Linked DNA regions of Homo sapiens: all the other regions are linked to region 2. Evidence: fine-mapped expression QTL. Tissue or cell type: blood mononuclear cells. Region 2 holds a variant in brackets; each other region holds the start of a gene. Each region is shown on its reference strand, or each on the opposite one. Region 1 holds the start of MMRN1 (multimerin 1). Region 2 has its middle 13 kb from the start of ARHGEF3. Region 3 holds the start of ITGB3 (integrin subunit beta 3). Region 4 holds the start of H2AC6 (H2A clustered histone 6). Region 5 holds the start of H3C10 (H3 clustered histone 10).

The links.
Region 1: it holds the start of MMRN1, and the variant in region 2 is fine-mapped to the expression of MMRN1 in blood mononuclear cells (TOPMed, PIP above 0.99).
Region 3: ITGB3 starts here. The variant in region 2 is fine-mapped to the expression of ITGB3 in blood mononuclear cells (TOPMed, PIP above 0.99).
Region 4: it holds the start of H2AC6, and the variant in region 2 is fine-mapped to the expression of H2AC6 in blood mononuclear cells (TOPMed, PIP above 0.99).
Region 5: it holds the start of H3C10, and the variant in region 2 is fine-mapped to the expression of H3C10 in blood mononuclear cells (TOPMed, PIP above 0.99).

The regions. Positions count from the first base shown.
Region 1 is chr4:89,891,240-89,896,690 of GRCh38, forward strand. MMRN1 (multimerin 1) reads left to right here and starts at 3,615. Exons shown (of 8, transcript NM_007351.3): 1 at 3,615-4,355. The coding sequence starts at 3,733.
Region 2 is chr3:56,811,661-56,818,269 of GRCh38, forward strand. It overlaps a transcript of ARHGEF3 not described here. Among named protein-coding and RNA genes, the nearest start is that of ARHGEF3, 13 kb to the left of the region's middle. The variant T/C (reference allele first, on the strand shown) is at 4,061.
Region 3 is chr17:47,251,779-47,255,924 of GRCh38, forward strand. It overlaps ITGB3 (integrin subunit beta 3), which reads left to right and starts at 2,049. Exons shown (of 15, transcript NM_000212.3): 1 at 2,049-2,162. The coding sequence starts at 2,084. RefSeq lists a silencer at 1,844-2,103.
Region 4 is chr6:26,120,306-26,126,914 of GRCh38, forward strand. It overlaps H2AC6 (H2A clustered histone 6), which reads left to right and starts at 3,867. Exons shown (of 1, transcript NM_003512.4): 1 at 3,867-4,385. The coding sequence starts at 3,928. The coding sequence ends at 4,320. It overlaps H2BC4 (H2B clustered histone 4), which reads right to left and starts at 3,621. Exons shown (of 1, transcript NM_003526.3): 1 at 3,162-3,621. The coding sequence starts at 3,599. The coding sequence ends at 3,219. RefSeq lists enhancers at 1,041-1,727, 1,728-2,412, 2,413-3,098, 2,546-3,745, 2,794-3,533 and 5 more and a silencer at 3,405-3,770.
Region 5 is chr6:27,806,490-27,813,098 of GRCh38, forward strand. H3C10 (H3 clustered histone 10) reads left to right here and starts at 3,562. Exons shown (of 1, transcript NM_003536.3): 1 at 3,562-4,047. The coding sequence starts at 3,585. The coding sequence ends at 3,995. It overlaps H2AC13 (H2A clustered histone 13), which reads left to right and starts at 1,684. Exons shown (of 1, transcript NM_003509.3): 1 at 1,684-2,178. The coding sequence starts at 1,721. The coding sequence ends at 2,113. H2BC13 (H2B clustered histone 13) reads right to left here and starts at 1,440. Exons shown (of 1, transcript NM_003519.4): 1 at 990-1,440. The coding sequence starts at 1,417. The coding sequence ends at 1,037. It also overlaps the pseudogene H4C10P. RefSeq lists enhancers at 1,828-2,027, 1,946-2,544, 3,228-3,899, 3,516-3,805, 3,900-4,571 and 4 more.

The sequences.
Region 1 (5,451 bases), not on the chromosome of region 2:
GGAACAAGTTCATTATATTTATTTAGATTACTTTTTTTTTCTTTTGTGTGGCTATAATAATGTGAAATAGAGCCCTCTTCAACCCATTTGTTATCACTATACATAGGAGTATGGTCATAGCTTCATCTATTCGTTCACTGATTCAACAAATATTTACCGAATACCTATTGAATCAGGATTGGGCATAAATATCTGTTCTAACAATTACTAATGTGTTACCCTAGGAAGTTATTTAACTTCTTTAAGTTTAACTTCCCATGAGTATAACAAGAATAGAATACTTACCTAACATGTTTGTAAGAATTAAATAATATGCCAAATTTAACTTACCTAGCACATCGACTCATCAAAATCATGCAGAAATCAGTTTCTCTTCTTCTCCAGCCCTTTTGCTGTATGTTGATAACCCCCTTTGTCCACATGTAAATTTGACAGGTTTTCAATATTTTTCAAACACCATTAAATTGAAAAAGCTCTAAAATTTGTTTTCTTCTATTATTTTTTGACAGATATGTCTTATGGAGGAAGGTAATAATGAAATCATATTTTGGATGTTTTAAACTATTTTAAGAAAATAGGAATTTCTCATGTGAAAAATGAAGAAAACAGCTGCTGAAAAATCCTATTAATCTGGTGGAAGTTAGCCCATACCCCCAACATTTTACAAAGAATAAGTCTTGCAGCTATAAAAATGCTTTGAATAGTACACAGCACCATCTACAGTGAACTCCTCAATCTAAGATTCTCTTTTAACTCACATTTATATTTTCTTTTAACTTAATAATCTTTTTTTGTTTTTTTTTCTTGTGGTTAGAAAATTAATTCATATGCATTATAAGGTGGAAAAGAACCAAACCCATTATCTCATCACCTACAGACAACCCATGTTGCAGTATATAGTGAATCCTATGTTTATGATACAATGAAAAATGACATAAAAATCTCCTGATAACTCATAATATAATAAATTTCATGATTTTTATCTTATAAAATATTCATGGTGAACAAATGGCAAGATGGTAAAACATAATTTAATATGAACAACCAAGTGGGAAATGGGAGGTATAGCAAAATGACAGGGTCCAGTTATACAAAACTGATGATATAGTTTAATCCAACAATAGTATTTTAGTATCTAGTATCTAGTATAATAGTATCTAGAAGAATGAGTAAACTGAGTACTCTTCAGCCAGTCATCTCAGCAATATTATTTTTCTTAATTGTTATTTAATGAGTATTAATTAGTCTCAGAAAGAAGAATTTGAGACAAGGTCTCTGACAATTTCTGGAGTATTTTATACCTCTAATTAAGGGCTGATCCATATACCCAAAATCACTAAATGAGCTTGAGATTCTCTGGGGAGTTAAAGTGCAAGATGGCTTAGTAGATCAATAGTGAGATACAGAACCTTTAGCCTTTTGATTTCAGGGTCCCTTGTAAGCTAGGATAGGGGTGAGCAAAAGTCATTATTGGTCAATACCTTATAAGTGGTTAAATGAATTGCTTAGCTTTGTTCAGTTTTTATTATCATTGGATAACTATTTGTTATCAGTTATAGATCCAATGGGTGACATTTTACCACTAAAGTTCACTTGCCAGACCAGGTTTGAACAGTCTTTCAAACTGTAGAAGAAAACAAAAAATCAGTGAATGTCATTATTTTGGCAGTTTTGTAAATCTTCAAGACAGTCCATTCATCTATTTTTACTAAAGCTAGGAAAATTGGTGTAAAATTGAATATAAATAGGAACATTTTTCCTAAATTTTATGAAATTACTGCTCTTCCATAAGCCAAAGCTAGTTTCTTCTGTGTTTTCCAGATAAAGACACTGTAAAGCCTTTTTCTTTCTACTGAAAACCATGTTTGTATTGTGACAGTTGTGCAGTTTCATTGCTCTTTTGCTCTTTTTAGTAACTAATCGTTTCCTGGATTGTCTCTGCTGGACCTTTTTGCTCCTTTACTAAGGCAAGGTTTGTGGATTGTTCTGTGGTATATCTGAGAAACGGATGCTTTTTACTCCATATCAGAGTCGATTGGGGTTGCTGATGATTGTCTTAGTTTAAATAAATACTCTCTAGTAGGTCAACAATACACTTACGGAAATAAATGGCAAAGATTGAGGGAAGAAAAAAATATTAATCCCAAGTAGTTAGTAGCTCAAGGAAGAATTAGGCCTTATTTCAAATCCTGGTGCACTGTGTCCAGGAATAAGGACTAGAGAAAATATCTACAATAAAACATAACCAAGCAGGCATTAGATTTCCAATTCTCTAATTTTGAAAGACGGAACTTAATAATCTAATAACAAAAAATAAAATCTAATAATAGTTTAACAATCAATGACTGAATATTTAGCAAGAGCATAATGCCTGGCACAGAAGTTGACAGAAAAATGGGTTACACATGGATTTAGCTTCCAAATAACATAACAGACATTTAGCAAATTGACAGCAAAGAATATTTTTGTTTTCCTTATAATCCTAGCACATAAGAGAGTGCTTTGCACAGAATGAGGGGTTATGTAACTACTGAATTCATGAATACATAAATAAATGAATGAGTGAATGAATGAATGAACTATTATAACTTAGTTTGTATATCTATTTAAACAGACTGATATGAAATTTTATAGATAAGAGGTTAATTGAAATCTGAGGATCAGAGATTTGCTGGAGAAATTAAATGATAAATCTCATGAAACATCTCTACCAGAAAAAAACCCATAGAAAACTCAGATAAATCTGGTTCTCTGCTACCTACAACTGGCATAATTTTGTCCTACAGTAAATGTATAAAAGCATTCTATATGATCCCATTTTAATTTATTTTTATGTGACTCCATTTTTTCTTCATCTATCCCTTACTAGTAAAATATTGGTTACCCCCAACCATCAGACAATCGTGATTGGAAAATAAAGGAAGTAAAATTCTGATTATTTATTCCATTAGTGGGTATCTCTGGTAGAAGTTCCAGGAGCAAAATTTAAAGTGACTTCCTGGTATACCTGTCTAATTCAATTACTTATGCTTTCCTTTTCTGTTATTACTTATAATCATTGAGATTAAGTAATGATACAGCTGAAGTGTATTTATAAAAATAGAAAGATATACATGTATGTAGATAGATGTTTTATAATTCAGAGTATATGTACTATATGAAAGGATAGAGACACTGTAAACAAGCTTTTGATTATGTGTATGCATGTGGATATACACTTGAACAAAATGCAGCTTTCTGGATAGAGCACAGCAGATAAGTATCATAAAAACTTTTCTCAGTGTCTTTATGTAGTAGAACAAAATGTTAAAACTGTATTCAGCCTATATCAACAAAATTTTGCACTCTCTATCGTGAACCTGAAATTTCTCTTTGAAATCAGTGAAACGTGAAACCAGGGTGTGCTCAGGAAAAGAAAGTTACTTCATATTTTTTCATGGGTTTTCCTGATAATAATTGCCTGTGCTTTCCCATTTACCCTTAGCTTTGTCAGAGACCCTTCAGCACTTCCATAGAGCCATCCCACTAGAGGTCACAGATCACAAAAACCCTACAGAAACAGGAAACCGAACTTCCTGAGTACGCTACAAAACACAGAAACCTGTTTCCTCTACACATCTCAAACTGGCAAAACTCAGTCTTAGCAGATTCAGTGTGGAAGCAGCTATCAAAAAGGCCATAAGGATTTTGTCCCCAAATTTCACATGAGCTACCTTGCTTCAAACTACTGAGATGAAGGGGGCAAGATTATTTGTCCTTCTTTCTAGTTTATGGAGTGGGGGCATTGGGCTTAACAACAGTAAGCATTCTTGGACTATACCTGAGGATGGGAACTCTCAGAAGACTATGCCTTCTGCTTCAGTTCCTCCAAATAAAATACAAAGTTTGCAAATACTGCCAACCACTCGGGTCATGTCGGCGGAGATAGCTACAACTCCAGAGGCAAGAACTTCTGAAGACAGTCTTCTTAAATCAACACTGCCTCCCTCAGAAACAAGTGCACCTGCTGAGGGTGTGAGAAATCAAACTCTCACATCCACAGAGAAAGCAGAAGGAGTGGTCAAGTTACAGAATCTTACCCTCCCAACCAACGCTAGCATCAAGTTCAATCCTGGAGCAGAATCAGTGGTCCTTTCCAATTCTACACTGAAATTTCTTCAGAGCTTTGCCAGAAAGTCAAATGAACAAGCAACTTCTCTAAACACAGTTGGAGGCACTGGAGGCATTGGAGGCGTTGGAGGCACTGGAGGCGTGGGAAATCGAGCCCCACGGGAAACATACCTCAGCCGGGGTGACAGCAGTTCCAGCCAAAGAACTGACTACCAAAAATCAAATTTCGAAACAACTAGAGGAAAGTAAGAAATCTTCTTTTCTTTTTGTTCTTTCTCTGTCTATCAGGTCTAGAAGATTGCAAGTGAAATTTACCTCACTCCCAGAAAATTATTTCAAATTCAAGATGAAATTGGATCATATTTATAATTTCACCATTTCAGTTAGATAAAGTTATTGTTAATTTATCTAATAGGGAAAAATGAAGAAATAAAATGCAGCAATTTTGTTTTAACTGAAATAATCATTCACTTTTCTACTCACTTATAGAGGTAGTTTTACTTAGAATAGTCATTGCCAAGCAAACTAGCACCACGGTGGCTGTTAGTTTAATTCAAGGATATGTTGATTGTGTTCCCAACCATATTCACAATATGAAAGACAAAAATAAACAAATAAATAAAATTGGGGCTTGAACAGATGTGAAAATTGGAATAGCAGTATTATAAAAAGTAACAGTTGTCAAAGATCGAAACAAGCACACCAGGGGTGCAATCCTGGCTTCAGTATGGTCTAGTTCCATGATTTTGAGCAACTCAGTTGATGTCTGTGAACCTCAGTTTCTTCATATGGAAACTACAGATTTAATACAAGGAATGTCAATAAAAATAAAACTTTGCAGGGTTCTCGTTCAGATAAAAATGAATGAAAAGTGCTTAGATGCATGCTCCTCACAGAATAGGTGCTCAACAACTCAAATTTTGCTAGTACCATGATTATTTTGAGTTGTGTTGCCATCATGAATATGATGAATCAGAAAACTTATTTTTCAAATTAATTTTAATTTAAAGTTAGAGCAATTTGAGTGGTTGAAATAAAATAAAACAAATTTAAAGGAGTGTTGTTAAAGAGGGTTTTCAAAAGAAGTGATAGTCAAATCAAAATAAACAAAGAAAAAATATCTGGGTGGGTCAATATTTTATTCATTTAATGCTCAGAGTCATCTGTATGTTTGGAATACTAGAAGTTTAGTATTGCAAAACTAAACTTACAAATAGTTTTTACATGTAATAATACAAAGTCAAGACACCAGACATGTCTTGGGAGCAAAATGGGGTTAAATATCTTACTAATAATAAAATAAAATCCAAGTTAAAAATAGAAGTTGACACACCTGCTATG
Region 2 (6,609 bases):
CAGAGCCAAAACCAAGCTCAGCAAACATAGTTCGCATGTGCCCACAATTCTGATTAAACCAAAAGCCTTGGCAATAGAGGACTGAACAGAAGCACTTAGTCACTAGTTCCCCAGATTTTATCATTGCACTATCATTTGATTCTTCAACTCTAGCATTAATAAGTACAACCAACTGATAGCTGTGCCTAGCTAATTCCTCTCATTCAAGGTTGTCTGTGACCCCCAGGCAAGGGTAATCCTTGTTTTGTGCCCTCAAGGTGCCAAGTACCTCTTCTTCCCCAGTAGTCAGCCTGCTCATATTGACTGATTTTATGTCTGTCTCCACTGCCTGGCTGCAAGCTACAAGGGGACAGGGACCATATCTATCTTGCTCATCACAGTAGCCCCAGCTCCTCCTATTACGCTGGCACATAGCAGACTCTCAGCTCATATTTGTTGAAATGAAAATTAAATTGAAATGGGGCTAATCAAAGAACACGTCACGGAGGAAGCAAATCCAGAGAAGATTTTTGCAAGGAGGAATACACCATATTTAAAACTTCTGAGATGGGACCAAAAAATAATATGCAGAATACTATAGTGGGCTGTTTGAAATTTTGAAAGGTAATTCAAATAGGCCCCTAATTTTAATGTTTAGCTTCTTGAAGAGTCCAAACCACTTTGAGAAACGGCTCCTACAGTGTTAGACTGTGGGGGCCTCTCAGATATGATAGAGCTTTCAGTTCCTTCCAGCTGTTTACACACTAATTCCTGAACAAGGTGGACTTGCCAGGAAGGCTGAAACTAGTGACAAAGGGACATCAAATAGCTTATTTTCAAAGACACTGTGCAACATGCTCATCTGCCCTTTTCCTTCCCTTTAAAGGTTATTTCTTTCATTCCCTTCTCTAGGTTTTTGATTCCAGGTTAAACTCTACAAAAATGTTTTTTTCCTCTTAACTTGCCATGCTCACACCTAATGCCATTTGTATCAAAACTCTGTTTTCTTGAGGTGGGCCCCAAGGGGCTGACTTTTAAGGGAGGGGGCAGATTTTGCCTGATGTTTCTGCAAGATTAAACATGGTGCTTATCTGAAGTTCAAGGCTGATGATAAATTATAGACTCAAGAACTTTTTATTCAAAGAAGCCAAAGGAAGAAGGAAACTTCTCTGCTAGCTGCTCCACCAAAGGGGAGTCATGTTCTCCCCTCCTAGAGCCTTACAAGAGATAATTTTGAGAGCTCATTCTGGTTTAGAGACAATACATGGTGAACAAAGCTCATCTGTCATTGAGTGGGAGGTAGGGAGGAAAGAAGGTAAGAGAGAATTAAAATTGTAAAGCCAACATCATGTGGATTCCTCCTTGAACTTTAATAACCCAGTGCTGCCTGCAGGCTCAGAAAAACCAAATGCAATGGGTAGGTACAAGGATTGCTCTGGTGCCAGGAAAATGCAATAAGACATAACTTTTATAAGGTAGGCAATGAAAGAGTGCCCTGCAGGAACAAAACAGGCTTTTAACATCTCCAAAGTTGGCAGCCAGATGCCTGAAACATTGGTTTAGTGCATCCAAAACACACAACAGATAGAACCACTTTCTTTAAGATGAAGTCATCTTCCAGGAGAAACAATAGCTGGGAAGGCTGGGTTTTTATGATTCATGGGAGGAGGAGAATTTGATCTGTATTTTCTTTGCCACAGTCTATCCCATTTTAATGCATGTTAGAGGTTTTCCACATGTTAGGCAAATTTTCTAGAATGTTTTGAAAGGGAAAAAATTCTGCAGACTGCCTCAGTTACTGAAAGAGTTCTCTTTCTCCCCTGGCTGGGGAGGGATCCAGTTCTGTCTCACCGTGTTATCGAAAAGATCTGAAACTACAACTCTTCATTTGGATTCTGCTGTTATGAAATGCAGTTTGGGGTATCTTGTTACACTTTACTCCCAGAAGTGTTAAAGGAAGTGCCTGTCATCAAAATTCAAAAATAAATATAAAAATGATGCTGGCAGAGCTCAAAAACTAAAAGGATCAGCATTTTGCTTCAGTTTCCTGTTCATAAAACTTTATAAAAACAACCCACCCATTTAAAAAAAACCTGTAACAATAGTTCACTATTCTTTTCCTAAATGCTTGCCTCATGCCACTCTGAAATTAGGTGCCATCACGTTTCCTGAGTTATGGGCCCCAAACACCACATCCTTTTCCTCCCTCCCACACCCCCACCCCACCTGGCATCATTCCTGAATTTAGATGCTTCTCCAGTTTCTGAGCTCAGTAGACAGATGCCAACATTCTCCCTCCTACCTGTCCTGAAGTGGCCAAGCATCTGTACCAGCTGGAAGCAGGAATAATTGAGGCTTCCTTCCCCCAAATTAATTCTCACTTCCTAGAGAAGCTTTTAATATGGAAGGTTAAATTATAAAGTGAAGAGCTAGTAAACTGAAAAAGAATAAGATATTTCCCTCCCACTCTGCCTTTACAGCAAAATTTTCTTTGTGGAATACTCAACACTCTGTCCTTCTTTCTGGAAGAACATAGAATACAAGCTCTAGAACAAGCTTTTCCAACCCATGGCCCACAGGCTGCATGCATCCCAGGATGGCTTTGAATGTGGCCCAACATAAATTTGTAAACTTTCGTAAAACGTTATGAGACTTTTTTTTGCGATTTTTTTTAAGCTCATCAGCTATTGTTAGTGTTAGTGTATTTTATGTGTGGCCCAAGACAATTCTTCTTCCACTGTGGCCCACGGAAGCCAAAAGATTGGACACCTCTGCTTTAGAATGAGAAGCCTGGGTTCAAATACCAAGTTTTCACTTGCCAACTATATGACTTTGGACAGTTTACTTAATGATGACAAACATCAGTTTAAGCATCTATAAAATGGGGATATGAGAGTTTCAAGGTTTTAATGAGTTAAAAACACATGAATAATCCAATAAGATAATATGTATGTCAGATTTCTAAGCATACAGTTAGCACGTCATGCTATTATTAACCCTTCCGGTAAATAAATCATCCTTCTCCCTTTTTTTTTAAATGAATTAAGGAAAAAAGGTGGAATTTGGAGAACTTTTCCAACACTCCTTGCTTCCAAAGACATTAATTCTTTGATTTAATCTTATAATTTCAAAAAAGGATATGACTGTTGCACATATATAAAAGAAGCAGCAGAGTGAAGAGTGAACTGACCTAAATTAGAAGACATGGGCCAGGTGCAGTGGCTTACACCTATAATCCCAACACTTTGGGAGGCCAAGGTGGGAGGATCACTAGAGCCCAGGAGTCTGAGACTAGCCTGGGCCACAAAGTAAGACCTCATCTCTACAATAATAATAACAATTATTATTATAACAATTAGCCAGGCACAGTGGCATATGCCTATGGTGACAGCTACTCAGGAGGCTGAGGCAGGGTGATTGCTTGAGCCTAAGAGTTTGAGGCTGCAGTGAGCTATGATCGTGCCACTGCATTCCAGCTTGGGCAACAGAGCGAGACCCCACCTCTAAAAAAATTAAAAAAAAAAAAAAAAGAAGACATGGTATACAATCTGGCCCTACCATTAAGTCTGTGGTCTTGGGCAAGTCAAGTGATCTCTCTGAGACATAGATTCTTGAACCATATAACAAGGTGATTTAAACATAAATGTGTATGCTTCTGTGATTCTATTAAACAGCAAAGACTGAAGTGTATATGGAGTATTATCTTGATTTTATGCTATTTAATTTCAGGAAAGCTTTCAAATAAAAATTCATATCTTATGTACTGATGAAAGCACCCTGTCTAAAATTAGCATGTTTGGTATAGGCAGCCCACATTTTGGGTTGGTTCAGCATGGTAATATTTTATGAAGGCTCATCAGAAAATTAAGCTCAATGTACTCATTTGTCAAGAAATGCATATGCATATAGATTCTTTTAATATCAAATGGCAAAGCAAACAAGAGGTTGAAACAGAGGAAAGATCAACTATGAGAAAAGAATTACTGAGGGAAAATGGAGACAGACTACAAATGGGATAGAACTGGCCTAAAATATACCACTGTCACTTAAAAATAGGTACTCGGTTACATAGTGCCTGTGT[T/C]ATCTTTACAACAGCATTTGGTTCCTACACTGTCTTCTTCCTACAGGCCTGTTATGACTATGAGAGCTATCTGTTCCTTCAGTGGACCAAGTCTTGCTGCCTTGTGGATTCTGCCCAGTCACAGCTTCCCTTCTGCCCTTCAAGGGTGGGCTGCTTGCATCTAAGTGGTAGGGCCATACCTAATTCTGTTCTGGATATAACACAGATGACTGACTGGGCTTGGTGGCTGATGTCTATAATCCCAGTACTTTGGGAAGCTGAGGCAAGAGGATCACTTGAGGCCAGAAACTCAAGACCAGGCTGACCAACATAGTGAGATCCTGTCTGTACACAAAATGTAAAAATTTAGGAGGGCATGATGGTGCATTCCTATAGTCCTAACTACTTTAGAAGCTGAGGCAAGAGGATGGCTTGAGCCCAGGAGTTGGAGGTTACAGTGAGCTATGATTGTACCACTACACTCCAGCCTGAGTGACAGAGCAAGACTCTGTCTCTAAAAAACAAAACAAAAATACACATCTAGATGGTTGCTGGCATGAGATGCTAAACCACAGGCTTCTCAAAGCTGAGGGTTCTGTGCAACCCTGGCCAAACTTCTTACCCAAAATACTTACTTACATTAATGTTGTCCATTTATAAGAATTAGAACTAAAAACAAAGATACCTTGCAGCAACTTCTAAATAGTGCCCCATAAATAACAAATAGCACTAGAATTACTTAATAAATCATAATCTTCATTATTCTCTAGCATCTGTTTCCCCTACTAGATTGTACGCTCCAAAAGAATCATGAATCGCTTGTACAAGGCTACATCCCCATTGCCAAAAGATGCCTGGCAAGTGATGAGAGCTCAGTAAATGATGCTGAGAGCCGAAGAGGTGTTTGCTCTCTGCCAGGCACTGTGCTTTGACTTTAATGAAGTATCTCAAGTAATCCTTACAACAATCCTATGAAATGAGTACTTCTATAGTAGGAGAAACTGAGGCACAGAGAGTTCAAGCAACTTGCCCAAAGTCACACAGCTAGTAAGCAGCAGAGCTGGAGTTCAAATGCAAGCACCTTGCTTCTAGAACCTCAAGTTCCAATTCTGAAGCGGAACGTTAATTCACAGGCCAGTCACAAACCAGGGAGTCCTGAGGCCAGAGCCTATGATGCAAGGGTCAAGGATTTGAGCCTATATGATATGACTGAAAGAACACTGAATGAGAAGCAGTGCTGACTTGGGTCCAGTCCTGTGACGTTTTTGCTCACCAGCTTCCCCTGCTGATCAATCAGGGGGTTGGATGCTCACTCAAGTCCTTGTCAGGTGTCAACCCCAAGTGCTAGAGTCACCCTAGACATAATCTCACATCCAGAAAACTACAGAGCACAGTGTGCTCTTCCACCTTCCACGAGGGAGAACCACCAAAATATCAACCATCAAGCAAGTTACTCAGTCTCTCAGAACTTCAGTTTCCTCATCTGCAATCAGGACCAAATAGCACCTACTTCAAAGGGTGGAGGTGAAGATTAGAGAGAAACCTGGTTAAGGGGCTACCACATAGTAATAATTTCATAAACAGTAGCTAGGTTTATTATGGTCCCAAACAGAGCGAGGAGATAAGTCTGGAGGAGGAACGAATCTCTTCAAAACCCAGGAACCAACCAACCAGTTGGAAAGACAGCTCTGAAACTCAGATTTTTAAACAATTTCTAACAGTAGACTACATGTGTGGCACATCATCCAAGCAAAAAGTTCCATATCAGATTCTCTTTCAACAAATGGAGTAATAAAGACAGGTTTGAGTTAACTTCAGCTGGAACAGAAAGAACCATTATGACTTGGGAAGTTCACACCTGAGTGCTGAAAAGCTAGAAAATAATGTTAGGTGCCATTTGCCTTATGCCAGACCTGTGACAAGCATGTGACATATATTACCTTACTGAATCCTCACAACCTGCTGAAGAGGGTACTGCCCTGTTGTATAAATGAGGGCATGGAGGCTCAGAGAAGATAAGTAACTTGCTCAAGATCACACAGCTACTAAATAGCCATGCCAGAACTTACTTAGTCTGCCAGAACGTTGATGGTCTTAACCACAAAGCTACACCCTTCCCCAAAGATAGCGTGTCATTGGCCCCAGCATGCCCCGTACCCACAGGGCAATCATGTCCACACCATGGGCAAGTGGCTTTATAGGAAGGCCACGCATGGGGGATCAAGTGGCCTTGGGTTTTGGTCCCTGTTTACCCACAGACTGTGGCAGCTATGGACAAGTCATTTAACTTTCCTGGACCCTGTTTTGATCAAACAGAATGTACTGGATTAAAGTTTTTCAGTCCAAGTCTTGTGGAACATTAATCACTTACATTTTATACCCGAGAGGTTAGGGATAAAAGAGGAGCCAAAGACATAATGAGCTAACCCTCTGTCCTGGGACTCTGGCTAGGGGAAGAAGTGGAACACATTTGTTACCAAACAGAACTGGGTGACCCTCAGTTCCCTTCTATCTTGAAAATTCTGAAACTCTACTGAAAATTCTGAAATTCTCCTGAAAATTCTGAATTT
Region 3 (4,146 bases), not on the chromosome of region 2:
ATGGTCTGAACTAGTTTTTCAGATTAACTTTGGAATGCCCTTGGCTGAGAGGAAGGGTTAGTTCAGACAGTTGTGGGGGGGCTTATAATGTTATTTTTAGTTTACAGGTTCTTACAATTTACATAGAATTGTTCAATATTAATTCAACATAGGCTACTGTATGATAAGTTAAGGAGGAATATTGTAATACCTAGAGCAAACACACACACACACACACACACACACACACACACATGCAAACGAGGTGTAGCTAGGAAGCCAGTAGAGAAAAAAAAATTATCCCAAAAGAAAGCAGAAAAAGAGAAACAGAGAAACCAGCCAAAAAGATAGAACGAATAACAAGATAGTAAATGTAAACACAACCATCAATTACTATACTAAATGTGAATGGACTAGCTCCTTTGCCTTCCCTGGGGCTGGGAGTGCAGGATGGACTCACTTGCACAATTATGTCATGTTTGCTAGGGCTTGGGCTAGGGTTGTGGACTTAGCATACTTGCTGAGGCCAGTGCCCACCCCAAGTGGTTGCTGACAGCAGGGATAGGCTAAGGAGACACCTAAGTGGCTGGAGATTGGTTTTATATATATGGGAATGGAGCAGATAACTAAATACTTAGGCAGAGATGTAACCAGGCCATGTGACCTGAACTTTGCTCCAGGGCATTGACACTGCTGTTAAAATGCTTCTGGCCTAGAGGCCCTCTGCAGCCAGGGGAGGTAGATGGAGCTTCAGCCTGAAAACCCAGGTCAGAGGGCCCAAGTACCCTTTGCAGAGCTGGCTTTTCCCCTTGCAAATTGCTAGTGACGCTTCAGCTGATGTGTGTTACTATTAAGGTCCTAGTGTTTGGGAGGGTGGGGCAGGAGGTGGAGGATTGTCAGAAAAAAATTACATGGAAAAAGATGGCATCTGAGATGTTTTGAAAGATAAGTGGAATTTTCCAAGTGGAAAAAGGAAGGAAAATCAGTCAGATAGGAAGGCATGGAGCATTGGGGAATGACAAGTATCTTCTTGGACTAGGGTGGGAGATGGGCTGGAGAGATGGGTCAGGGCCAGTTGTCTGGCATCTTGTGTGTCTCAGAAGAGGGTGGGCACGCTGCGTAGGGAAGCCCAGGGCCACTCTGAAAGCCCTAAAGGGGAACTGATGCCTCTGGCCTTGTTTTTATCACCATCAGGACTACCCATTGAGGCAGGCTGCACTACCAGCTACTTCCTGGTGCCCTCTTGCTCATAGCCATAGTATTTTGCCTCTCTGAGCTTCCAGAGGTTTTAAGTCTGGGGAAGACCCAGGGACTCAAAGAAAGATTGGGGTGGGAGATAAGGGGCCACAGTTTGGGGGAGTCAGGCAGGAGGCCTTTGAGGAAAATAGATAAAGTCCCAAAGCCTGTGAGTGTGAATTTGGAGGCAATATGCTGTGTTCTGAAACGTTTTCAGACACTGGCTAGGTGCAAGCAAGTGTTTGTAGGGCGAGGCTCTTCATGGACCTATCACTGCTTACGCAAGCTTGGGATGTGGTCTTGCCCTCAACAGGTAGGTAGTCTACCGGAAAACCAAACTAAGGCAAGAAAAAAATTAGTGAATAATAAAGGACTGAACCGGTTCAGAGAAGGCATTCAGCAGATGTTTGCCAGTCAAATGAATTAAAGTGTGAATGAATGAAACTCGAGGTAGTGGGTGAATGTGTCCCAAGAATCCAGCGAAACAGGGTCTCCCAGGAGGCGGGACTGGAAGGGTCCGGAGAGGGGCCACAGGCTCCTGGCCTTTCTAAGCACACCAAGTGCCCAGTCGCGGACCCCCGGGACCAGGATGCGCTGACGACCCGGCTGGCAGGCGGGTCCTCGTGGGCGAGGCGAGGGAGGCGGCGAGAGAGGAGCAATAGTTTCCCACCGCTCCCTCTCAGGCGCAGGGTCTAGAGAAGCGCGAGGGGATCTAGAGAAGCCGGAGGGGAGGAAGCGCGAGTCCGCGGCCCGCCCCGTTGCGTCCCACCCACCGCGTCCCCTCCCCTCCCCTCCCGCTGCGGGAAAAGCGGCCGCGGGCGGCGGCGCCCACTGTGGGGCGGGCGGAGCGCCGCGGGAGGCGGACGAGATGCGAGCGCGGCCGCGGCCCCGGCCGCTCTGGGCGACTGTGCTGGCGCTGGGGGCGCTGGCGGGCGTTGGCGTAGGAGGTGAGTGAGGCTCCGGCTCGGCAGCGTCGCAGCTGCCCCAGGATCTGCGCCCCGGTCAAGTTGCGGACTTGGAGCCGGCAAACGCGGAGGGCTGGTCCCGCGCGTCTGCGCTGGGAATGCGCGTGTCCTGGCTGGCGCGGTCGGAGCCGGGAGCTGGGGACCTTCCTGGCCCGGCGGTGGCGGGGCTGAGAGGTGCCTGGTGCCTGGGAGCGGGTCCTCCGAGACGCCGAAGCCATCAGCCAGGCTGAGCGCCTTCCCGGCCGCCGCGGCGCGCACGGTGCGGTGGGCGCATCTCTGAGCCCCGCGCTCACCCGGGGCTGCGCGCGTCGCGGGTGGTCCTGGTCGGGCCAAGGACGACTGGCCCAGGAGCCAAGGCGAGGTGGGGCTTCCGGGGGTTGTTCCCGCGCCTTGGCAGAGGGATGCCGCTGTAGCTTCCTGGGTGAGAGCGTGCGCGCGCGCGGGTTTGCCAGTTTCCCCACATTTCCAATTTCTCCTGTTACGCTTTCTCCAGAAGGTTTTTTCTTTTCCTTTTTTCTTTCTTTCTTTCTTTTTTTTACCTTCAACTTGGCTTCCTGCGGGGTTGTTTTGGAGCAGGATGAGGGCTTTGCCTCCTCCAGTGTCCCCAGGTGGCAGCGGTGCCTCTGCTCCCAGGGCAGACCCTGCACCCGAAAAATCTCTAGTGTATTCGGGGAGCCATGAAAAGGCTCCCTTGGGCCGGTGGGATCCTTGGCTTTGTCTCTGGCTGCTGCGCACACCGTCAGCCGTCAGGGCAATTGGCATTCGGCCTCTTTGGTACTGGGGACACAGGTGGAGGGATGGAGCGGGCACAGCCCGGGGTTGCTGCCCGTGGTCCTCTCTGAGTCCTTGGTGATTTTGCCTGGGCTGGAGAGAAACCCTGGCTCCTGGTCTGCTGGGGCCGCCTCTGCCTCAGAGGATGACACAAGAGTGCATGTAAGTATTTTTAATAAAAACTGTAGTACTCGTAAAACAATCTACACCCTGCAGAAGGGATTTGTTATTTTATTTTATTATTTATTTATTTATTTATTTATTTTTGAGACGGAGTCTTGCTCTGTCGCCCAGGCTGGAGTGCAGTGGTGGGTTCTCGGCTCACTGCAACTTCTGCCTCCTGGGTTTAAGCGATTCTTCTGGCTCAGCCTCCCGAGTAGCTGGGATTACAGGCGCCTGCCACCACGGCCGGCTAATTTTTGTATTTTTAGTAGAGACGCGGTTTCACCATGTTGGCCAGGCTGGTCTGGAGCTCCTGGCCTCAAGTGATCCGCCCACCTCAGCCTCCCAAAGTGCTGGGAATACAGGCGTGAGCCACCGCACCTGGCCAGGATTTATTTTAAAAAGGGAAGATTTGTTGATAAATTCACTTCAAAGATAAACTATTCGAAAATACTTTAGTGATTCCCGTCAAGACTCTTCTGTGTATGTATAGACGTATAACTCATTCTGGACAGGGCAAGGATATCTTTTTTTGTTTGTTTGTTTGTTTTGAGATGGACTCTCGCTGTCGCCAGGCTAGAGTGCAGTGGCGCGATTTCAGCTCACTGCAACCTCCGCTTCCCGGGTTCAAGGGATTCTCCTGCCTCAGCCTCCCGAGTAGCTGGGATTACAGGCACGCACCACCACGCCCTACTAATTTTTGTATTTTTAGTAGAGACGGGATTTCCCCATGTTGGCCAGGATGATCTCGATCTCTTGACCCCGTGATCAGCCTGCCTTGGCCTCCCAAAGTGCTGGGATTACAGGCGTGAGCCACCGCACCCGGCCAAGGGTATCTTGAAGGAGGGATTACAGTTGATATGTAGAGGAATATTGCAGTGGTTATTGCTGCATTTCCTATGTGACTGGGACTAAAACAGATCAGCTGATAGTGTTAGCGTGCAGTGAGCAGTCTGATGACTATGACACAGAAATAAGAATCTCCAGCATTCTGCCCTGGGACATGTGGAGCCTTGGGTCAGATGCTGCTGGC
Region 4 (6,609 bases), not on the chromosome of region 2:
CCAGGCGTGGTGGTGCACCTGTAATCCCAGCTACTGGGGAGGCTGAGGCAGGAAAATTGCTAGAACCCTGGAGGCAGAGGTTGCAGTGAGCCGAGATTGTGCCACTGCACCCCAGCCTGGGCCACAGAGCAAAATTCTGTCTCAAAAAAAAAAAAAAGATAGTCTCAATCTTATTGCCAATTAGGAAAGCTAACCGTGCTAATAGAACAGAATTTAAAGTGGGTAAAAACAGAGCCATAGGTTATCTATTTAGCATGTTGATCAGTTAAAGAAATAAAAGTATGTAATTAAGATCAGAAGTCCCTCAGGTGGCACCACTGCTGAGAATATGAATAATTCTGATTCTCAGTTTAGAAGAAAATTCTAGTTTCCTAGTTTCCAGCATCACATCCCTTACAATAAACTCGTTAAGGTTTAGAAAATATTAAATCTTTGTTTTATTCAGATATTGAAAGCACTCTTTTTTTTCCCTGACTCAATAGTCCAATTTGTAACAACATTATGTTTCTTCTGTCCTCTAACCTTACTTAAAGAACGTGAAGGGGCAATAATGTGAAATTACTAAAATTAATAATAAGCTGTAGAGCCTCTGCCATAGCAGTTATTGAGACCAGACATTCGGTTTCCTTGATTTCCTTTTTGTCTCCTGTTAGTCCTAACACTTTCTTAAAGTCAAAAGTTATAACAGGGCAGCCATTTTATATTCATATCATCTTAACACAGGAATACTGGTTTTGCAGATATCGACAACTATTTGGACTCAAAAAAGACAAGTTTTGGAAGGTGGAAAGAGGCATACAAGCACAAAACATCAAATCCCATGTAAAGTCAGAAAGAAAAACACCAACTCTAACCCTGTGTCCTCACAGAGAATATCAACATCTTCAAACAAAAACACCCCAAAAAAAGGTTAATAAATAAACCAGATTTCCTGTCCTCTCCACTGACTAATCACTTAATGATGTGACCAGAAAACCAGAATTCAAATTCTACTACTGCCACCAATATGCAACCAATCAGCCAAGTCCAATTAGAATAACCAAAACAAACAAACGCGGACGATAAACTTTTAGCATGCAAAAGCCAAAGGAAAGTGAACAGAAAACTCAAAGGGTCCAGGGATAGACAACCTGTTTCCAAGACACACATTTCTGTTGGTTCTTATTGTATGACTCACATAAACACTGTCTTGGTGGAAAATTCAGAAATAAATGACCAAGAAGTTAATAATTTGCTTACTGGGTACTTGTACAGAAGAGAGAACAAGCAATAGAATTATTTCATCTAACACAGGCAAAAACATAATCTATGTAAGAGAAAGGGGAAAAGGCGGGGAAAGAATACTGAATTTTGTTTGCAGATTTTGGTTACACTGATTAGTTAGTTGGCAGGTAGGAGAGCGGTCAGTCTGAATGGGAATAAGTGACCAGGTCCATTAGAGGCATAGAAAAAAAAAAAACCATTTAGGCCCGGCGCGGTGGCTCAAGCCTGTAATCCAGGACTTTGGGAGGCCAAGGCGGGCAGATCACCTGATGTCCGGAGTTCGAGACCAGCCTGACCGACATGGAGAAACCTCGTCTCTACTAAAAATACAAAATTAGCCAGGGTGTCGTGGCGCATGCCTGTAATCCCAGCTACTCCGGAGGCTGAGGCAGGAGAATGGCTTGAACCCGGGAGGCGGAGGTTGCTGTGAGCCAAGATCGCGCCATTGCACTCCAGCCTGGGAAACAAGAGAGAAACTTCGTCTCAAAAAAAAAAAAAAAAAAGAAAAAAAAATTTACTTGTGAGGGACTCTGGAAATTTCATTTCTCATCAGAATTTCTCAGATAAGTTATCTAGGCAAGGCAGCCTGTGATTGCACAGCAGTGTTCAAGTATAAGGCCTTGTCTGGCACCAAAGACAGGCCTTAGTTTATTTCCCAGGTGTGAAAGAAATTGCAGATTTAAGATCACACAGTCCTTATGTTAAATAACTGTAACCTAAATTACATGGTATTTAAGTTTGTAAAAATCTGCTTTAACACTAATTTTATTTATTGTATATTCCCGGTTTTTAATGGAGAAAGCAAACTTCTAGGTGCTAAAAACGTGTTCTAGACTTGAATAAAAAGATAGGTAGACTACGTCTAACCCTTCATCTTAAAATCTTTACCTGGAAAAGACCATGAGTAAAATACTTAAGGGAATGTGGAATTTCCCAGGCCACAAAGCGGCCTGCAGTTGTCTAGGAAGGGAGAGTCCTCTAGGAGATACAGTGTATGTGCTAAGTTTAATGACGTCTCCTCTTCATTCTCCCCCACCCAGCGCCTAGTCCTTACTGGCCTTCAGTTCAGTGTTCGAAGGCTTGTCAATTTACCCAGCAGTTAAGAGTTGGCTTCTCCTAAAGCAACTTTCAAACTTGTCTGCATGTTACAAGCCCCCTACGGAGATTTTAAGTTTCAATCAGGCAACACACCATTTATGGCTGACTGAGCACTGGGATTCAAGCAAAATTTGATTTGATTTGAATCTTGAATAAACCAGTTGAATAGAATAAGATGTATGAAGCAACATCTGGCGCAGTGCTTACATCTTTAGTTCTGTACTGCCTTAGTGTTGTTATCAAAACTGACGCATATTAGGTTAAAAGACTATTACCGGGGCAGTTGGAAACCCAGGAGACACACCCTTCAGTATACTACGAAGGTGTGCGCCACGAAAACAGAGGGGGAGTCCTTCCTTAGGCAGTTACTGCCCAGGTTCCCACTCCGGTCCGCTATGTAAATCAGAGTCTCAAAACAGCTTTCCCTCGATTGGTTAATATTTAAAATGACAGGACAGCCTATTGGCTAGAAGCTGGTGGCGAAATTATGACATTACGGCAACCGTTGATCCTGGCGACGTAGACAGGGACAGACAGCTGGGTCTGAAACCTAAGCGAGCCTGCGGTTTCTTCCGGGAACGCCGAGTTAGCAAAATGGCCGCTTGTCTCCATTTTAAATTTAAGCACAACGAATTGACCCCAAAGCCATTTTTAATGGCTGGCTTCTTTCGGGTTCAGGACCCTTTGTCCCTCTCTAAGCTGCAACACTTGTCCCCACCCCTCTCCAGTTCCTATATTCTAATACCCCTCCGCCGCCAAATAAAATTTGGCGTCTGGCCACAGCTCTTTTAGTGGGTATCTGGGTGGCTCTTAAAAGAGCCTTTGGGGTTAGGTGTTAAGACGCTTACTTGGAATGTTTACTTGGAGCTGGTGTACTTGGTGACGGCCTTGGTGCCCTCCGACACGGCGTGCTTGGCCAGCTCTCCGGGAAGCAGCAGGCGCACGGCCGTCTGGATCTCCCTGGAGGTGATGGTCGAGCGCTTGTTGTAATGCGCCAGGCGGGAAGCCTCGCCCGCGATGCGCTCAAATATGTCGTTAACGAAAGAATTCATGATGCCCATGGCCTTGGAAGAGATGCCAGTGTCGGGATGGACCTGTTTCAGCACCTTGTACACGTACACAGAGTAACTCTCCTTGCGGCTGCGCTTGCGCTTCTTGCCATCTTTCTTCTGCGCTTTGGTCACTGCCTTCTTGGAGCCCTTCTTCGGGGCGGGAGCAGACTTGGCTGGCTCAGGCATCTTAAAACACCAGAAATGTGTCGAAAGTAAAGAGCGGATTTCTGCTACTTATAGGGCTTTTATGCTAATGAGGGATGGAGAGTACCTCTTAGTTAATTGGAAGACAAACTGCACAGTTGTCATCCGTGGGCAGAGCTATGCAAATGAGGTATGAAAGTACAGCTTTTCTATTGGCTATCTGACTAGCATTTGCTACCGACCAATCAAAAAGTCGGATTTACTCCCCAGGAACTACCTATAAAAGCGGCCATGTTTTACATATTTCTTGATTTTGTTTGTTTTCTCGTGAGCTTAGGCCGCTGGTTTTGGTGATTTTTGTCTGATTGCAATGTCTGGACGTGGTAAGCAAGGAGGCAAAGCTCGCGCCAAAGCGAAATCCCGCTCTTCTCGCGCTGGTCTCCAGTTCCCGGTGGGCCGAGTGCACCGCCTGCTCCGTAAAGGCAACTACGCAGAGCGGGTTGGGGCAGGCGCGCCGGTGTACCTGGCGGCGGTGTTAGAGTACCTGACCGCCGAGATCCTGGAGCTGGCCGGCAACGCGGCTCGCGACAACAAGAAGACTCGCATCATCCCGCGCCACTTGCAGCTGGCCATCCGCAACGACGAGGAGCTCAACAAACTGCTAGGCCGGGTGACCATTGCTCAGGGCGGCGTCCTTCCTAACATCCAGGCCGTGCTTCTGCCTAAGAAGACCGAGAGTCACCACAAGGCCAAGGGCAAGTGATTTGACAGGTATCTGAGCTCCCGGAAACGCTATCAAACCCAAAGGCTCTTTTCAGAGCCCCCCTACCGTTTCAAAGGAAGAGCTAACCTCACTGCTTGTAGGTAGAAGGAAAAAAGGCACTAAGGTAAGTTAATTTTATGCCAACCTTGAGCAAAGCGTATTACTGCTTTTCGGTTTTTGGGGAGCGCTGTTACTAAAGGTTGGTCTGTTTGTATGTAATAGTAGGTCAGTTACGTACTATCATACTCTAAAGAAATATTCTAGTTAATGCTTTGTAAGATCGACCATAGTTAGTGCCTAACAGTTTACATGCAGGGATGCCTCGTGATCTAAACACTTCGTTGTGATTACTTTAAAAATGTAAATTGAAGGCAAAACTCTAACGTGTTGGTAACCTTGTTTGGTCCTCCGACTAGTCCCCCGTCTATTTTTTTCTCAATTTAGGCTGTAGGCAGCCTCACTTTCCTAATTCTGTGAGAGTTATAGGTCCCATTCCTGCTAAAGTGCAGAGTATATTACCTAAAAGTTAACCAGGGAGTTGAAAGGTGTCTGTAAAACAGACTAATGTCCCTAATGTAGAACGGTGCCTGACATGCAACTTACTCTTGTATTTTAAGAAGCTCAAGCGTCTAGGTTGCCATTACAGGCAGAAAAGGAAATAGAGTGGGGCCTGTGGCCACTCAAAAACCTTTGCTTTCTGCTCACCCCTCTAATCCTACCACTTTGGGAGGCCGAGGGGGCTGATCACCTGAGGTCACGACTTCGACACTAACCTGGCCAACATGGTGAAACACCTCTCTACTAAATAAAAATAATAAATAAAAAAATAAGTTGGGCGTGGTGGCACATACCTTGTAATCCCAGCTACTCTTGAAGCTGACGCAGGAGAGTCGCTTGAGCCTGGGAGGCGGAGGTTGTAGTAAGCCGAGATCGTGCCACTGCCCTCCAGCCTGGGCAACAGTGAGACACGGTCCCCCAAAAAAACCTTTGCTTCTAGGGATCTGGTAACAGCTGCCCCACCCACAAGAAATGGAGATCTGGGACCATGGACAAATTTCTAGAGACCTATTTTCCTGGATTCTGTGAATCTCGCCGAGGTTTTCTTCCGGATCTCGGTTTCTGCATTTTTTTGTTTGTTTGCTTGCTTTTTTGAAACGGAGTTTTGCTCCTGTTGCCCAAGCTGGAATGCAGTGGCGCGATCTCGGCTCACTGCATACAAACTCCGCCTCCCGGGTTCAGACGACTCTCCGGCCTCAGCCTCCCTAGTAGATGGGATTACAAGCGCCCGCCACCAGTAGAAACGGAGTTTCACCAGGTTAGCCGGGCTGGTCTCGAACTCCTGACCTCAGGTGATCCGCCAGCCTCTGCCTACCAAAGTGCTGGGATTACAGGCGTGAGCCACCGCGCCCGGCCGGTTTCTGCTTTGATCGGAATTAAGTGGGCAGAAAAGTCTAGGCGGGCTAAGTCTTGCCTATGCATCTGCGCCCAGCTGCTCAGACTGGCCAAACAGACCCAGTCGTTTAGTCTAACGCTTCTGGAACTCCACTGAAGCGTTTTGCATTGTTTCGTTTGGAGCCTTCAAATCCGAGTGTGTGGCAGGAGATAATAATCCTAGCAGAAGCTGTTTACTGCTGACGCGCCTCCCACTTCCCAGATACTGACACCGGCTCAGGGCGGATCCAGCCTTTTCCGCTCTTCCCTCCCTCCACCCCCTCCTTTCCCTACAACTACTCTCAAAGGAAAAGGGTTGGATGTCCCATTTGGGTGAAAACAAAGTGGCATAAAAGCAAATGATCACCTTTGATAGCCACATATTAGAATTTTCCGAGGGTATTTTTAAATTACAACGATTCTAATGGGCAGCTGGGCTGAGAATCATCAGATTTGAAGGTCTGGTTTCACATGGCTCTTGGGCTGAGAAGACCGGATTTTCCCCCCCCAGCATTTCCTGTATGTCCGAGAATTTCGATCCTAAGGTTAGAATTGCCTTATGGGCCTTGGAATCCTTTTTATTCACTGACCAAATTGCCTTTGATTCCAGCTCCCAATCGGTGTGTGACCTTGGCCTAGGGCTTAATCTCTTCCTACCTCCATCTCTTCCTTGTATGCTTTTGCTCACCTTGAAATGAAAAGAACCTGGCTCAGCAAGTGTAGATTCTGAAATCAGAAAACAGGCTGAATAAGAGAGATGGTTTATTAGGCACTACTGTGTGCCAGGCACATTTCATGAGCTTCCAGTATGTTAATTCATTTAATCCAACAATCTAAGAGATAGGTTTTATCCTTATT
Region 5 (6,609 bases), not on the chromosome of region 2:
GCTTAATAAATGTTAGTAAATTGGATGGTAAATAGTATACGAAAAACAGTTGGGTTTGGGTGAAAACAAGAAAAACTTTTAAAAATCTACTCTGGCATCTTTTGCTAGCAGGCATTGACAATTAGGAGAAGGCAAGGTGTTAACTTTTACTGATCTCCCACTTTTTTTTTTGAGACAAGGCCTGGCTTTATCACCCAGGCTGGAGTGCAGTGGTGCGATCTCAGCTCACTGTAAACTCCGCCTACCAGGCTCAAGCCATCCTCCTACATCAGCCCCCTAAGTAGCTGGGACAACAGGGGCGCGCCACCACTCCTGGCTAATTTTTGTGCTTTTTGCAGAGACGGGGTTTTGCTATGTTGCCCAGGCTGGTTGCGAACTCCTGGGCTCAAGGGATCCGCCCGCCTCCACCTCCCAAAGTGCTGGGATTACAGGCATGAGCCACCGCGCCCACCCCTCTAGTTTCCAGTTTAGTCGGAAAGATTAAAAACGCCAGCCTTGTTTTCCTAGTGCTGTTTTTGGTTTTTACCTCGGGTCTTTTGTCGTGCCTTAAAATCATGTCTGGTTGCGCAAGTGAGGGAAAGGATTGGGTAAAGGGGGCGCCACCGCAAGTTGCTGTGCAACATCCAGACATCACCAGACCCACCACCTGGAGCCTGGCCTGGCGGTGTCAAACGCATTCTGGTCTCATCTTTTTAGAAACCCGTGGATGCTCAAGGAATTTCCGGATAACGTGATCCCGGATGCGCTTGACTGACTTACACGGAACGAGCAAAGCGCAAAGCAGTCCCTGCTAAGGACTTAGTTTATGCCCTCAAGCGCAAAGGTCGGACCCTCTATGGTGTTGGTAGCTATATGCACGTACCTCATGTACATTTCACCTTAAATGGCTTTCAAAGAGCTAGATTAATTTAGTGGATAGATCAAAATGATTTATGACCCCTCGCCCCCCAGTGATAGGAAGAGCGAACCAGCTCTTCTTTAGATAATAGTGAGTGGCTCTGAAAAGAGCCTTTGGGTTGGACAAGAGCTTGAGAATTTACTTGGAGCTGGTGTACTTGGTGACGGCCTTGGTGCCCTCCGACACCGCGTGCTTGGCCAGCTCCCCCGGAAGCAGCAGGCGCACGGCGGTCTGGATCTCCCTGGAGGTGATGGTCGAGCGCTTGTTGTAGTGCGCCAGGCGGGAAGCCTCGCTTGCGATGCGCTCGAAGATGTCGTTGACGAAGGAGTTCATGATTCCCATGGCCTTAGAAGAGATGCCGGTGTCGGGGTGGACCTGCTTCAGCACCTTGTACACGTACACGGAGTAGCTCTCCTTGCGGCTGCGCTTGCGCTTCTTGCCATCCTTCTTCTGGGCCTTGGTCACCGCCTTCTTGGAGCCCTTCTTCGGGGCGGGAGCAGACTTGGCCAGCTCGGGCATAATGAAACAATAGTGGCAAAACCAAAACAAGAAGTCGGTCTCCTCTTTTTATATAATAGTTTATGCGGCCGAGGTAGTGGGAAGGTCTCTGCTGATTGGTAATTATCCGTGGATGACGACAGATGCCAGTTTTGCCCAATCAAAATAGGTATCCTGCATAATCGAGTCCTATTGGTCTAAATAAAAATAAAACGTAAGCCAATCGCACAGCTTCCTTTTCGCGCCCAGTAGAGGCTATAAAATGTACGTTTTTCTAGTTTCACTTCAGTCTTTCTTGACCGTATAGATAATAGGCCTTTTGCCATGTCTGGGCGTGGCAAGCAGGGAGGCAAAGCTCGCGCCAAGGCCAAGACCCGCTCTTCTCGGGCCGGGCTTCAGTTTCCCGTAGGCCGAGTGCATCGCCTGCTCCGCAAAGGCAACTATGCGGAGCGGGTCGGTGCTGGAGCGCCGGTGTACCTGGCGGCGGTGCTGGAGTACCTGACCGCCGAGATCCTGGAGCTGGCTGGCAACGCGGCCCGCGACAACAAGAAGACTCGCATCATCCCGCGTCACCTCCAGCTGGCCATCCGCAACGATGAGGAGCTCAACAAGCTTCTGGGCAAAGTCACCATCGCACAGGGTGGCGTCCTGCCCAACATCCAGGCCGTGCTACTGCCCAAGAAGACCGAGAGCCACCACAAGGCGAAGGGCAAGTAGAAGCCTGGATTAGTTTGCAGCAACTCAATCCCAAAGGAACCAAAGGCTCTTTTCAGAGCCACCTACAATTTTGTGGAAGAACTGAGCACTATGTTTAATGTAATTTCTCGTCTTTGCCTACTTCTAAACCACTCCAAAGGTTACGTAGATCAGTCTTCGGTGTCTTGGTTAGGTAGTGACAATCTCGTTAGCTTTATAAAAAGCCTGGATAACATTAAAAGTATTAAACACGCCTTCATCTTAAGCTTAGTGGAAGAAAATTTAGTTTTTCCTAAGCTGGCATTATCCAAGTATGTTGAATTCTGTATGGTTCACCGTCGGGTTTTACTTTTAGTCTGTTGAAGCAAACATGTCTGCTTTGGGGCCAGATGTTTTCTGGGTCTTGGTAAATAACAAACCGGGCATTCGACGTTCAATCCAAATCTAGATCAACGACTTGGATTCTTCATTTCTGAGAAATATCTCTCGAATCTGTATAATTAATTGCATTTGAACATTAATGATTGAGTTGAGAATAATTATTAGACTAATTAGAACAGTTACTTATGGTGCCAGGTAGTTCTCTTTGAAGCATTTTCTGAAAATTCATTGAAATTAAAATTTCCCGAGCTTTCCCACCCCCAGCCACACAAATTGATTTCTTAGTACAGAGATGACTTAATTTGTTTCAGCATGGTAAATTCCACTTTTAAAATATCTGACTTGATGTTTTTAATCTGAATCAGATCTGGATGTACGAATGGAATAGATTCTTAAAAGAAAATGAATTACATTTCTAGAGTATTGGAAAAATAAGCTGCAATGGAATTACTTTAATCTAAAAGTGAAAAGTTCACATAAAGTTGTTTCTTTGACATTTTTTGGCCTTGAATTTCTCACATGCGAACCAGCTTTTCTTGGTTATAAAAATAGAAGTTTTTTAAATTTAAGTGGTCAAAAGATAGAAAATTGAGGGGACAGGTGTATAAGGCTGTCCTGTCCAGTATTGCAGCCACTAGCCAATTGTGGATAGTGATCATTGGAAATTCCATAGCATGAATTTTATATAAAATACACATTGCATTTGGAAAAGTCAGTGCCAAAAAGTGTAAAATACCTAACAATTTTAATTTCGATAACATTGAAATATGTTGGCTATATTGGATTAAGCAAAATATTAAAAATTAATTTTTCCTTGTTTTGTTACAATGTTCTCCTAGATAAGTGTAAATTACTTATATTGCTCTCATTTCCACTGGAAATCGCTAGTATAGTGAACAACTGTATAGCGAAAATAGAAAATAAAATATGGAGACCATGAACTGCTAAGTCTGTCAGAGGAATAGGTGAACAACAAAAATTTGAGTCCTTCGCCAATCCGGTTACTGTTGGGTAGGCCTTCAGCATACTTTTGTCCAATCAGCTTCAGACTCTCACTATAAATAAGCGGCTAGCTTTCTCTTTCTCCTGAAGTGAATCTAGCTCTGAAGGCATGGCGCGTACGAAGCAGACTGCTCGCAAGTCCACCGGCGGCAAGGCTCCGCGCAAGCAGCTGGCCACCAAGGCGGCTCGGAAGAGCGCTCCGGCCACCGGCGGTGTCAAGAAGCCCCATCGCTATCGGCCTGGTACAGTGGCTCTCCGCGAGATTCGCCGCTACCAGAAGTCCACCGAGCTGCTGATCAGAAAGCTGCCTTTTCAGCGTCTGGTGCGTGAGATCGCGCAGGACTTCAAGACCGACTTGCGCTTCCAGAGCTCCGCGGTGATGGCGCTGCAAGAGGCATGCGAGGCCTACCTGGTGGGGCTCTTTGAGGACACCAACCTGTGCGCCATCCACGCCAAGCGGGTGACTATCATGCCCAAGGACATCCAGCTCGCACGTCGTATCCGCGGCGAGAGGGCTTGAGTCTCAAGGACTCACTGATTACATACCCAAAGGCTCTTTTCAGAGCCACCCACATGCGCGCTGAAAAGATCTGTTTCTCTCAGGAATTCTTCCTGGTACTTGTTTTGCCTGTAGTAGATAGGGCCCATTTCCAGACGTTATACAATCTGTTTCGTAAGACTCAGCCTATCCCTTTTTGAATGCTAATTTTGGGAGTCTTAACATCTAATAATGTCCGGCATTTTTCCGTAAGCATTGAGTGTAGCCAAAAGTTCCTTCGTGTATTGCTCTCCCATCTCCGCAGCCCGGTTTTGACCGGATGGTGCTTCTAATTTTCTGCTAACCTGTACTGTGGTGTGTGTATATTTCTTGCCAACACGCCAGAAATAAAACTAAGGTTGTACTGAAGTTGGAAAAATTCAGGTTAATGTAGCTCATGCTGGCTAAAGTGAAACGTTCTCTCCCCGCCCCCCGTTCCTAAGCAGTGTTAAGTTTTCTTTGAATTTTTTCAAGCCGGATTTTGGGCCTGCTTAAACCACTTAAATGTAGTTAATGACAGATGGTTTGAGGTTTAAAAGTCTTCTGGAGAAAGCCCGCCAGAGAACATTCCCTTTGAAGCCCCATGTAAAAATACGTGTGGGAGAGAAAGTGTTTTCTCTGACTTCTGCTGACAGTGGCTAAAACTCTGAACTGTCAGGAGTATTCAAAATAAGACTGCCTTGTAGGTAAGCCTGTGGTAGTTTTTTTGAGCACAGGATAAAATACTTGAGTCTTTGCTTAAATGTTACTTTCTCAATGAGGCTTTGTATGACTAAATAAAATCTGTATAATCCCCACCTATTTTTTTCACCCTAGAATTTGTCACTATATGCTGTACCAGAGTTTGCTGATGTATTGCTTGTGTGTTCTAAAATACAGGCTCATGAGAGGAGGAACTTTTGTTTACTCGCATATCTCCAGTAACGTAGGAGCTTTTGATCAGTATTTGTTGGATAAATGAATGAATGCATGGGTATATAATAGTAAGGAGACATACCCACATGGAAAATCTCAAATGAAAGAAATACATCAGCTTGGTAGATATGCTCAAATCAGCTTCTTGTGGGCCAGGAAAGCCCTTACCTCATCCATTCTTGTATTCAGAATGCTAGATTTCTATAACTTCTTCTGTGAGCTCTCTAGCATTCTTATAAGTATTCAAGATTTTCCCTGGCAAATTGGCTTGTGTATGTGTGTTATCATCTCTGTCTCTCCTTAGCTTAACCTGTGAAGGATGTAAGTGGAAAGATCATAGTATTTTTACACTGAGTTTTAAAAAGCAGTTTTAATTCTCTATCTTGTTTCAGTTGGCTATTTATGTATCTTCAGTTATTAGAATTGGTTACATTCTTAATACACTTTTTTGGAAATTTGATATCAAGATCACTACTGCAACATTCACAATCTGCTCATCCTCATTTTCTTGTGTGTGGGTTCATGATTTCATTATTTCCACATATATGGAATTTAGAAAGATAAATAATTTATGATTAATATTTTACAAATTAAAATAATGCTTTAATACTTTTAATTGGAATCAACACCGTAAGCAAAACAAAATAGAGTTTTTCCCCTCTCAGAAATTAGCTTTCTTCTGGAAAGGAAGATACACTATTTTGGAGGGAAGCAGTGCCTCTAGGACACTTAGGGGCCCAACTGCTAAACCGATGGATATTGTTGAGTGTGTAAATAGTGCATTCCTTCTTTCTGTGCTGGGAAACTAAGAGCTAGTAATAAATCAGGAAGGGCTCACACAGAGACTGCCTGGTATGTACTAATCAATACTCTTGCTGGCTGGGTAGGGCATCCTCTCCTGGAGATATGCAGCCAAGATACTCCCAGTTAAATTTCCAGTTATAATTACATGAGGAATTATTTATTTAAGGGACAGTGAGTAGTTCTAGTTATGTGGAAATGAATACTCTATGTCTTTTCAAAACACTCCATGTACTGAATTACAATAGTCTGGTAACCATCCAACTCAGCTCATTTGTCAGGAGTTCATGACCAGCCTGACCAACATGGTAAAACCCCGTCTTTACTAAAAATACAAAAAATTTAGCCAGGTGTGGTGGCATGTGCCTGTAGTCCCAGCTACTCTGGTGGCTGAGGCAGGAGAATCGCTTGAACTCGGGAGGTGGAGGTTGCTGTGAGCCGAGATCACGCCACTGCAGTTCAGCCTGGGCAACAGAGGGAGATTCCATCTCAAAAACACAAAACAAACAAAAAATAAATAAATTTAAAAAAAAGGACATAATTCTTGTGTCTGAATTTCCTGAGATGGCAAAACTCATAAGTGGCATAACAATCCTTTTCAAGGCCCAAAATAAAAGGACCTTGATATGCCCATACAGAAATATGGACAACAGGCCGGGCGCGGTGGCTCATGCCTGTAATCCAAGCACTTTGGGAGGCCGAGGCAGGTGGATCGCTTGAGTCCAGGAGTTGGAAACCAGCCTGGGCAATGTGGCGAAACCCCATCTCTCCAAAAAATAAAATTAGCCAAACGTGGTGGCGTGTGCCTGTGGTCCCAGATACTCAGGAGGCTGCGTTGGGAGAATCGCTTGTGTCCAGAAGTTGGAGGTTGCAATGAGCC